Linked DNA regions of Homo sapiens. The protein of the gene in region 2 purifies or fractionates together with the protein of the main gene of each other region. This does not show direct contact. Each region holds a gene or a part of one and is shown on either strand. Other genes may lie near its edges. The genes, in order: PON2, SLC39A11 and FAM174A.

What was found.
Region 1: the proteins of SLC39A11 (region 2) and PON2 purify together in Homo sapiens (affinity purification with mass spectrometry; 4 studies listed by BioGRID and IntAct, with this or other methods). This does not show direct contact.
Region 3: the proteins of SLC39A11 (region 2) and FAM174A purify together in Homo sapiens (co-immunoprecipitation; 4 studies listed by BioGRID and IntAct, with this or other methods). This does not show direct contact.

The regions. Positions count from the first base shown.
Region 1 is NC_000007.14:95,428,342-95,432,094, forward strand, and holds part of PON2 (serum paraoxonase/arylesterase 2), read right to left. Parts: intron 1-3,753. UniProt on the Homo sapiens protein: Capable of hydrolyzing lactones and a number of aromatic carboxylic acid esters. Has antioxidant activity. Is not associated with high density lipoprotein.
Region 2 is NC_000017.11:73,086,019-73,089,771, forward strand, and holds part of SLC39A11 (zinc transporter ZIP11), read right to left. Parts: exon of another isoform or gene 3,696-3,753; intron 2,758-3,695; 5' UTR 2,747-2,757; coding exon 2,639-2,746; intron 1-2,638. UniProt on the Homo sapiens protein: Zinc importer that regulates cytosolic zinc concentrations either via zinc influx from the extracellular compartment or efflux from intracellular organelles such as Golgi apparatus. May transport copper ions as well.
Region 3 is NC_000005.10:100,559,322-100,563,074, reverse strand, and holds part of FAM174A (membrane protein FAM174A precursor), read right to left. Parts: intron 1,022-3,753; coding exon 887-1,021; intron 1-886.

The DNA.
Region 1 (3,753 bases), on a different chromosome or scaffold from region 2:
CCTATGGAGTCCAGTGACCAAGGAATCCATGGGTAGAATTCAGGGATCCATGAACTTGGATGGGGGAAAAATACATCTTTATTTAAACCTTTAACTCAAATTGAGTATTTCCTTTGATGATGAGTATAAGCAACAAACCACAATACTATTAGTAGTATTTGTGACTGTCACTAATAGAAATTATAGATACTTTTCTATCGCATTTCAGTTGTAGATAGCTCAAAGTGCCATTTACATTCATTGCAACTTCAAAATATCTGCTGTTAGACATTTACCTACCTCTAGATCCATTTAAGGGTTTAATTTAAAAAGCATATTATATCATAGATTTTTAAATAGCTTGGTAGCAGTATTTAATTGGTTTCCTGTGTAATCCTATATATTTTATTTTACTCATTTAAAAACATGATGCTGAGAAGGAATGAAGGCTTTACCAGACTGCCAAAGGGATGTATGGCACAAAGGTTTAAGGAATTATGCTTGAATTTCATTGTCTACATAGATGACATTTATTGAGCTGACTGTGCGCTTGGCATTATTTTAAGCATTCTCATAGTCCCACTGTGGAGCAGGCAGTACCCCATCCTACAGATTACAACACTGGGGCACAGAAAAGTGAAATAATTAGTCCAAGGTTTCAGGTAAATAGTAGAGCTATGAATGAACTCAGGCTACCTGTCCACAAAGCATGAACTTTTTTTTTTTTTTATACTTTAAGTTCTAGGGTACATGTGCACAACGTGCAGGTTTGTTACATATGTATACATGTGCCATGTTGGTCTGCTGCACCCATTAACTCGTCATTTACATTAGGTATATCTCCTAATGCTATCCCTCCCCCCTCCCCCTACCCCACAAGAGGCCCCGGTGTGTGATGTTCCCCTTCCTGTATCCAAGTGTTCTCATTGTTCAATTCCCACCTATAAGTGAGAACATGTGGTGTTTGGTTTTCTGTCCTTCCAATAGTTTGCTAAGAATGACGGTTTCCAGCTTCATCCATGTCCCTACAAAGGACATGAACTCATCCTTTTTTATGGCTGCATAGTATTCCATGGTGTATATGTGCCACGTTTTCTTAATCCAGTCTATCATTGACGGACATTTGGGTTGGTTCCAAGTCTTTGCTATTGTGAATAGAAAGCATGAACTCTTAACCAACAGTCATTAGCATGAAATCAATCTCAGTGTCTTTCATTCAGGAAACAGCAGTACCCATCCAGAGTAGAATGAGACCAGGGGCTGCTAGCTATTATCTGGCCTCATGGCAGGTAGCAGTAAGGGTGTACCATGCTACGGTGCCAATATGCCCCTAAGCAAAGTGGGAACACAGTGTTACTATCAGGAGTTTCTTTGTGCCATACTTCTCTGCTTTTGAAATTTACATACAACTGCTGGGGCTTTATCTCCTATGTGCAAGTGATATACAAGCCAGGGCTTTATCTTTTATGTATAGCCTTGTAAAAACCCTTTGGAATTCACCCCTTGGGCTCTGGCAATACTTGCACTAAGTAACTAAGAATCTGTGCTTAGGCCTGTAAACCTAGGGAAAATTTGCTCCACTGGCAGAGAAGCTAGAAGACTGTGGGGAGCTGGGGCAAACTGTATTTGGAATCAGGAGACCTGGCTGAGGCGACAGGTTCAGCACTAATTATTCATTAATTATATTATTCAATATTTATATTATTCTGTTGAACTAACTAGTTAACCTCTCTAACCTCAGTATTTACAGTTATAATGTAAAAGGGAAGATATCTATGAAGACTGGATGAAGGCATAAAAGTAAAAGAGCTTTCTTTCCAAATATCAGTAAATGTACGTTTTGGTTTAATATAAAGAAATTTGGCAGGGCTCAGTAGCTCATACCCATAATCCCAGTGCTTTGGGAAGTTGATGCGGTAGGATCACTTATGGCTAGAAGTTTGAGATCAGCCTGGGCAACACAGCAAGACCCCCATCTCTACAAAAAAATTTTTTTGTTTTTTTTTTTTTGAGACAGAGTCTCGCTCTGTTGCCAGGCTGGAGTGCAATGGCTCACTGCAACCTCCGCCTCCCGGGTTCAAGTGATTCTCCTGCCTCAGCCTCCTGAGTAGCTGGGATTACAGGCATGTGCCACCGTGCCTGGCTAATTTTGTATTTTTAGTAGAGATGGGGTTTCACCATGTTGGTCAGGCTGGTCTTGAACTCCCGACCTCAGGTATCCACCCGCCTCAGCCTCCCAAAGTGCTGGGATTATAGTAATGAGCCACCGTGCCCGGCCATGTTTTTTTAATTAGCCAGGTGTAGTGGTGCATGCCTATAGTCCTCACTGCTTAGGAGGCTGAGGTGGGAGGATTGCTTGAGCCCAGGTGTTCTGGGTTACAATGAGCTATGATTGTGCTGCTGCACTCCAGCCTGGGTGACAGAGCAAGAACCTGCCTTGAAGAAAAAAGAAAAAAAGAAAGAAAATATTTTTTAAAAGATAGATTAAAAAAATAAATAAAGAAGTTTTTACACTTTTGACACACTGACTGACCAGCACACAAGAGTTACATAATAAATGATTTAAAGGATGGTGGTTTAAAAAAAAAAAAAAGGGAAAAAGGCTGCTCTTTCAGAAGTAGAAACAGACCACATAGCTTCTTGTGGGAATTGTCATAAAAGGTGCGAGGCAGCAAGCAGAACATTCACATGGGTACTCTGGGGGTTCCTGCCCACGCTTAGGTCTCTGATGCACTCAAGCCTCATGATTCATCCATGGCTGTGTACCTTGACACCAGGAACTGGCCTGGGAATATTTGTATACTGTTATTTTCCCCTTTATTGCTCAACTAGGGAGGGGTGGAAAAGGAGGGTGTGGAATCCCAGTTACAGTTCAGAAGAAGAAAGACAACTTTGATGGCATTTATCCCTCTGGGACATCCTTATACTAAAAATTGAAGTGGGCAACCTGGGGAGAGAAATAACTTGATTGCCAAAGTACCATCTCTAAATATTGAATAATCAAACAGTAGGCATCAGATTAAAGCAAAAATCAAACATAAAGCCTCTGTTCCTTCAACTTCCTCTGAAGAGCCTTTCCTTATGGGGAGGTGGGAACATGCTTTTTTTCTTTTTTTTTTGAGGGAGTCTTTCTCTGTTGTCCAGGCTGGAGTCCAGTGGCTCAATCTTGGCTCACTGCAACCTCTACCTCTGGGGTTCAAGCAATTCTCCTGACTCAGCCTCCCAAGTAGCTGGGATTACAGGGATGCACCACCACACCTGGCTAATTTTTGTATTTTTATTAGAGACGGGGTTTCACCATGTTGGCCAGGCTGGTCTTGAACCCCTGACCTCTAGTGATCTGCCCGCCTCAGCCTCCCAAAGTGCTGGGATTACAGACGTGAGCCACTGTGTCCGGCCAAACATGCTCCTTTTTAAAACAGACTCAAAGGGTCACCAAATTCTGACAGAAGGCACTCGAACATATGATAAAATACAGGGTACCCAGTGATATTTTAATTTGAGATAAACAATGAATGATATTTTAGTATAATTATGTCCCAAATTCCACGCTTAATGCTAAAAGTATGGTATAAGTATTTCATGCTTATACTAAAAAAAAAAAAAAAAATCCATGTGAAATTCAAAGTTAACTGGGTAGCCTACATTTTTCTTTGCTAAATCCAGCCACCCACCACCTACCCCAACATTCTCACGTCAGCCCATTTGGGGCTCCACATATCCAATAAAGTTACCATTTTATAAAGTCACTGCCCATTAAAGTGCATCACAGTC
Region 2 (3,753 bases):
CGTACTATATGATTACTCCATCTAAATAAAGCACAGAAACAGGGAAAATATCCGTGCTGTTAGAGATCACATGGGAGATGACCCTTGGAGTAAAGGTTGGGGATGGTGAGATTGGAAGGGAGACTGAAGGCTCCTGATTGGAAGGGGCTGTGAGGTGAGGAGCTGGTACTGTTTTGTTTCTTGATCTGGGCTCTAGTTTCATGAGCACTTGTGGAAAGTTATCAAGCTGCATACTTATATTAGGTTGGTGCAAACCTAATAAAATGCACCAGCCTAATAAAATGTGCATTTTTCCATAAGCATCTTCTATTTCAATACAGATTTTTTTTTTTTTGCTATCTATCCATAGATGAATGGATAAACAAAATGTGGTATGTACATACAATGGAATAGTCTTCAGCCTTAAAAACAAAAGAAATTCTGGCACATGTTATAACGTGGATGAGCTCTATGGACATTCTTTGAAGTGAAAGAAGCCATGTGGTCTACAGAACTTTTCACCTTACAAAATTAAAACTCAGCTGGGCATGATGGTGCACACCTGTAATCCCAGCAGTCTGGGAGGCCGAGGCAGGCAGATCACTTGAGGTCAGGAGCTCAAAACCTGCCTGAGCAACATAGTGAAACCCCATCTCCACTACAAATACAAAAATTAGCTGGGCATGGTGGTGCACACCCGTAGTCTCAGCTACTTGGGAGGCTGAGGTGGGACGATCACTTGAACCCAGGAGGTGGAGGTTGCAGTGAGCTGAGATCATGCCACTGAACCCCAGCCTGGGTGACAGGGCAAGACTCTAGCTCAAAAAAAATAAAAAATAAATAAATAAAACAGCCTGGCCGGATGGGGTTACCAGCGAAACCCCGTCTCTACTAAAACTACAAAAAAAATTAGCTGAGCGTGGTGGTGTATGCATGTAATCCCAGCTACTCGGGAGGCTGAGGCAGAAGAACCTTTTGAACCTGGGAAGCAGAGGTTGCAGTGAACCAAGATCACGCCACTGCACTCCAGCCTGGGTGACAGAGCAAGACTCTGTCTAAAGAAAAAAAAAACAAACAAAAACAAAAAACCCTGAAACTCTGTACTCATTCAAGAATAACTTATTTCTGCCCTCCTCTGTGGCCCCTGGCAATCACCATTCTACAATGTGTCTCTGTGAATTTGACTTATCTTGGCATCTTATATACCTAGGTTCCAGATAAACCATGTTTCTGGATTGTGTGTTTTCTGATTTCCAGTCTCCAACCCATCAGCTCCCGGGGGCAGTGCAGCGCAGCAAGGGAGGTCGGGATTTTATTGTTGAAATCAAGGCCTGCTGTACTGGTCTCTAACACAAGAGTGCCTGACTTGTGAACTTCCTAAAGGTGTTTTCATTTCCAGATCTCCCTCACAACATGTTGAACTAGATCTTAAGTCACTTATTCATTTGCCGTTTCTACAATGTCTCAGGCTACCGAGGTGATCGATGCAGGGATTGTGCATTCATCAAGATACCCATGGATGGCTCCAGGGCTGCGGACTGAGGGTGATCTGGGTTGGAGAAAAGAATGCAATTTCAGGTATATGAGGTGAGTGTGGGTTGTGCAGAGGTGTGGGGAGGGCATATGGGTATGGGTATGTGTGCAAGTGTGGGTATGTGGGACTATAGGTAGAGCGTGTAGAAGGGGTGTAAGGATGGGGTTGTGGGAGGAGGGAGAGATAGGCTGTGGGGCCATGACAGTGAGTGAGGGCACTGGGAGTAGGATACAAGGAAGATGTAGGAGAAAGAAGTAAGAGTTTGCAGGGGGCCAGGGACATGGGTCTGTCTATATTCATCCCAAGGGGAAAGGAAACAACCTGGAGATGGGTTGAAAAAAAAGGGAACAGATGCCCCTTCTTCTCCCAAGGTCTTTCCAACCATCCCACCCAACTCAAGTCCACAGGGGAGGACAGTTACACCTGAAATCTAATGTTCTTCGGTCACGCATAGTACCACTTGCTCCAGGCCTGAAAGAAATTACATGGCAGGCCAGGCACGGTGGCTCACACCTGCAATCCCAGCACTGTGGGAGGCCGAGGTGGGTGGATCATCTGAGGTCAGGAGTTTGAGACCAGTGGTGAAATCCCACCTCTACTAAAAATACAAAAATTAGCCAGGCGTGGTGGCACATGCCTGTAATCCCAGCTACTCTGGAGGCTGAGGCAGGAGAATCACTTGAACCCGGGAGGTGGAGGTTGCAGAGAGCTGAGATCCTGCCACTGCACGCCAGGCTGGGCAACAGAGCAAGATTCTGTCTCAAAAAAAAAAAGAAAAAAGAAAAAAGAAAAGAAATTACATGGCAGGTAGAAATTAGGCAGCGGGCTAACGAAGCCTCAATAACTGGGCTTCTCACTTCCTATTCCCTTCAAGTCAGGCTGTCAAGGGTCAAGAGGGGAGATGATGGTGCATGAAGGTGTCTACAGCAAGCAGACATCTGTTCTCCCGGCCTGGCAGGGAGAAGGTGAGAAAATAAGAAGACAGCGAACAAACCCCAGTACACAATGCCTGGGGGTGTGGCCAGGGGCACTGAAAAGTCTACAAACCTGCTCCATGGAGTGGGACAGTGCCCCTTTACCAACGGGCTCCCCACCAACATCCAGAACCAAAGCAAGGCAACTCACCTGTCCACTAGAGAATACGAACACGAGAGCTGCCCCAGCTGCTGTCATCCCCCAGGTGAAGAAGGTCCCCAGCAAGGCCTGGAACACAGAGCTGTGGCCTTGGAGCATGCTGGATACAGCTGTGCAAGAGGAGCGAGAGGGTCAGCCACCGGTGGTCCGTTTCAGTGACAGGCGCATATTCTGACGGGTCCTAACACCCTGTGTGGGAGCTGGCCTCCCTCCAGGTTGACCGTATGCACCCTTCCACCACGCCATCTGTGTCCCTCAGCCACCCAGCACACAGGTCAGGCTTCTCTATCCAGGTCCCCCAGGAACTGGAAATCGTCTTAATCTGAAAGAAGGCACAGGGAGATGCCAGGGGAATCCACAAAAAAGGCTGCAACATTGAAAAGTGGTTTCAAAGAGAAGCACAAAGAATGTGGTTTATTCCAGAAGAAGGGGGCATAGGAGGGTCTGATGCAGCCTCCCCCACATAATCTGCCTCTTCTACCGTCTCTTGCCCACCATCCGCACTCAGCCTCCACCAAAGACAGGTGACTAGCTCAGGTGATGTCAACACGCTTCCAATCTTAATCCCCATCACATCTGCAACAGCGCACCTGCCCAGCCAAAGGGTAAACTCCACCAACCAACTTTTGATACCCACCAACCCCCGACTCTCCAATCCCGTTCTCCATCATGCCTGCACGAGCACCCAACTCCAGCTCAACTGAATTATTTATGGCACCTTCCACAAGCCCCAGACAATCCTGCCTCCAAGTCCCTGTTCATGCAGTTCCCTCCTGGAATACCTTCCTTGCACATTTCCAGCCATCAGAACCCGGAGCACCCTCTGCAGCCCACATAATGCCAACCTCACGACCAAGGCTTTTCTGGCCTTCCCCAGCCCTGTCCTAGCATGCAGCTTTGGTCCTCTCTCAGTGTGGCTTTGCCTCCATCTTTTACAGCCTTAGTTGCTTGAGGACGGGGACGGTGCTTTTTCACATTTGGCACCCCTGTAAAATAGGGCTTTGTAACCCCTGAAAAATATGTGCTGGATGGAAAAGGGCCAGCTTACCTGCACAGGACAGTCAGCAAGGACAAGCAAAAGGACCCAGGAATGGAATGTCCCCTGG
Region 3 (3,753 bases), on a different chromosome or scaffold from region 2:
TAGATATAAATATAGATATACAGGACTTAGTAGTCCAATTTTTGTTGAGTCATCTTCTTTTCTGTAATCCTAAGATTTCTGTTTTCTTTGCATTTGTACCTGACTCTGGACTCTAATTCTCCTTCACCCAAGTAATCCCTCTGGATTCCAAGATGTCTTTCCTTATTAGGTTGAATCTTTGTTGGCTTTTTTCCCCATTCTATTTACATTGGCATTTATTCTATACTCATGTCATTTTATTTATCTAAACCTCTTAGGAAAGGTCTTAACACTTACTGAGAATAGATCTCAGTATATATATTACAGCTACATGATCAGACCATAAACAATTAGTCCCCCAATTCTGCAAGGCAGCACTATTTACAAACACTAGAACCCAAACTAAAAAGAAAATATCTTCAGAATACAAAAAGGAAATTAAATTTAATAAGTATTTCTCTCTCACACACACACACACAAACACACACGCACACAAACACACATGCACACACACACCCAAGTTAATACATATTGCAAGAATGAAGAAGTTAATGGGTCCTAGGCTTAATAACTGGGTGATGAAATAATCTGTACGACAAAACCACATGACACAAGTTTACCTATGTAACGACCCTGCACTTGTACCCCTGAACTTAAAATAAAAGATAAAAACAGAAGAATAAATTAAAAAAAATATTTTGAGATGGTATTCTATTGTTTGTATCTATTTGAGCAAAACAACGTGAATGTGAGCTATGGGGTAGATAGCAAAAAGAACTTCAGTAAACAGAACTGAAGAAACTGTGTTGGAATATAAGCTGTTAAATGAAAGTCTACTTTACTTCTTCAGTTTACTTGGCAAGGACTTGCTTCCTGATTCATGGAATTAAACTACTGGAATACTTACCTTCGAGGATGATTGGCATCAAACAACGTGTTGTCATCATCCTCATCATCCTGTTCTAAAGGTGTCAATTCCATATTTTCTATGTTAGTGTCCAAAACTCCATATCTCCTAGTCTTTCGGTTTCTTCTTCTCATCCTATCAAATAGAACAAATTAATGAATAAAAATTATTTAATATGGCATAGTTTATATTTATTTATAAAATAAATTATTATTCTGTTTCTGACATAGCAAACAATATCAGAATGGTTACATTTCAGATATGCAACAAATTTACCACCTAGGATTAAACTTCATGAAACAAAACCTACTCCTACATGTTTATGTGCCATCGCCTGTTTCTTCTGTCTGACATACTCTCTTCTCTCTGTGTCAACTGATGGTGTTGACAAATAACTTTTAAGCCTTAAATTCAGGTACCGTACTTTAAACCTTAATTTTTAAAGGCTTAGGTCAGGTACTTCTTTACTGAAACCTCCTGCTCCAGCCTTTTCCCCATGTCCTCCCCGCTTTCTTACCACTGTTTAGATGCCCCTCTAAGAAACTGTATGTATATGCATATTCACAGACTAAACTGATAGCCCACAACTCTAGCTGCACACTAGAATTACCTGGGAGTATTTTTTAAAGTCCCATGTTTAGGACATAACTGAATCAAAATGTACAGCAAAAAAGAACTAAATATGAATATTTTGTTGAGGTTCTAAATGTGATTCCAATGTGATATAAACCATTATCTGAGATCAGTGGTTCTTGCAGTGTGGTTCTCTGGATCAGCAGAATCACAGTCACCTAGGAAGTTACGAGAAATGCAAATCTTCATGGCTAGCCCAGACCTAGTGAATAACAAACTTTGAAGATGGGGCCCAGAAACCTGTCTTTTAACAAACATTTCTTATGCTTTTGATGCATATTCAAGTTTGAGAACCACTGGCTTAGAGAAATTCAAAAGATTCAAGGGTGCTTAACATTCATTATTAGCCATATGAATGAAATCTCAAGATTTAGAGTCCTACTTCCAGTTTGTGTCTCAAATAACTTGTTCTTTTCCTTCAAATCATTTACCTTAATTTGCATTCCTATGTGCTGATGTATATGTTTATGTGGGGTTTATTCATCTGTCTCTCCCACTAAGTTCTCTGAGGGCAGCAACCAAGACTGCTTTATTCACCACTACATAACCACTTCCTAGCACAGTGATGTATCAATTAAGATGTTCTTCAATTAATTGTTGAGGGTCTGAGTGACTTCTACTTTGGCGACCAAAACTGTGACCCTGCAAGGAATGCCTAAGTCATCTCCAATGCAACAACTTCAACTCCACAGACAGCAAAATGTGTTTCACAAGAGTGTCCACTGGAGTTTGAAAATAAATAGAAAATATTTCAGCAAGTTATCACAAATAAAATCAGTTTACATAAATTCTGATTTACTCTGTTTGACATATGTGGGATAAGAAATACTTGGGCTATAACATCAACTGTAAAGAGCAACATGAGACTCCTCAAACATGACAGTGAAGCTCCTGGAAAACAAACATACCTTCAACAAATAATTGAGTCTTATTAAGCATCAGGTATGATATTAGCACCTGGGTGTAAAGTGCCTGGTCTCAGTGTTAAAATTTACAAAATGTTACTAAGTGTGAGTACAAACAAAGAAAATTTCCACCAGTCATTACCTATAGAGCTATCTATATACACGTCTAAAGTGATGGAACAGGAAACAGAGAGTTAAGCATAGCATTTAAAGTTACAAATGTAACCAATGAAAGGGTCAGTAAATATTAGTACTAGCAAAAATGAAGCAGTATGAAATACAAAGTACTCTTTCTTTCACAGTGAGAAATTAAGTATGTTTAGGTTGTTACATTAACATGTATATGTGTGTGTATGTGTGCAAACACACCCACACACACCATGTAGACCAGAGGTCTAAACTTTCTCTATAAAAAACCCAGGCAAACAGGGTCTGGAGTGGACCTCCAGCAAACTCCAATAGACCTGCAGCTGAGGGTCCTGACTGTTAGAAAGAAAGCTAACAAACAGAAAGGACATCCACACCAAAACCCCATCTGTACGTCACCATCATCAAAGACCAAAGGTAGATAAAACCACAAAGATGGGGAAAAAACAGAGCAGAAAAACTGGAAACTCTAAAAATCAGAGTGCCTCTCCTCCTCCAAAGGAACGCAGCTCCTCACCAGCAACGGAACAAAGCTGGAAGGAGAATGACTTTGACGAGTTGAGAGAAGAAGGCTTCAGACGATCAAACTACTCCGAGCTAAAGGAGGAAGTTCGAACCCATGGCAAAGAAGTTAAAAACCTTGAAAAAAAATTAGACAAATGGCTAACTAGAATAACCAATGCAAAGAAGTCCTTAAAGGACCTGATGAAGCTGAAAACCATGGCAAGAGAACTACATGACGAATGCACAAGCCTCAGTAGCCAATGCGAACAACTGGAAGAAAGGGTATCAGTGATGGAAGATCAAATGAATGACATGAAGTGACAAGAGAATTTTAGAGAAAAAAGAATAAAAAGAAACGAACAAAGCCTCCAAGAAATATGGGACTATGTGAAAAGACCAACTCTACGTCTGATTGGTGTACCTGAAAGTGATGGGGAGGATGGAACCAAGTTGGAAAATACTCTGCAGGATATTATCCAGGAGAACTTCCCTGGATAGGGAAGTTCTAGCAAGGCAGGCCAACATTCAAATTCAGGAAATACAGAGAACGCCACAAAGATACTCCTCGAGAAGAGCAACTCCAAGACACATAACTGCCAGATTCACCAAAGTTGAAATGAAGGAAAAAATGTTAAGCACAGCCAGAGAAAACGGTCGGGTTACCCACAAAGGGAAGCC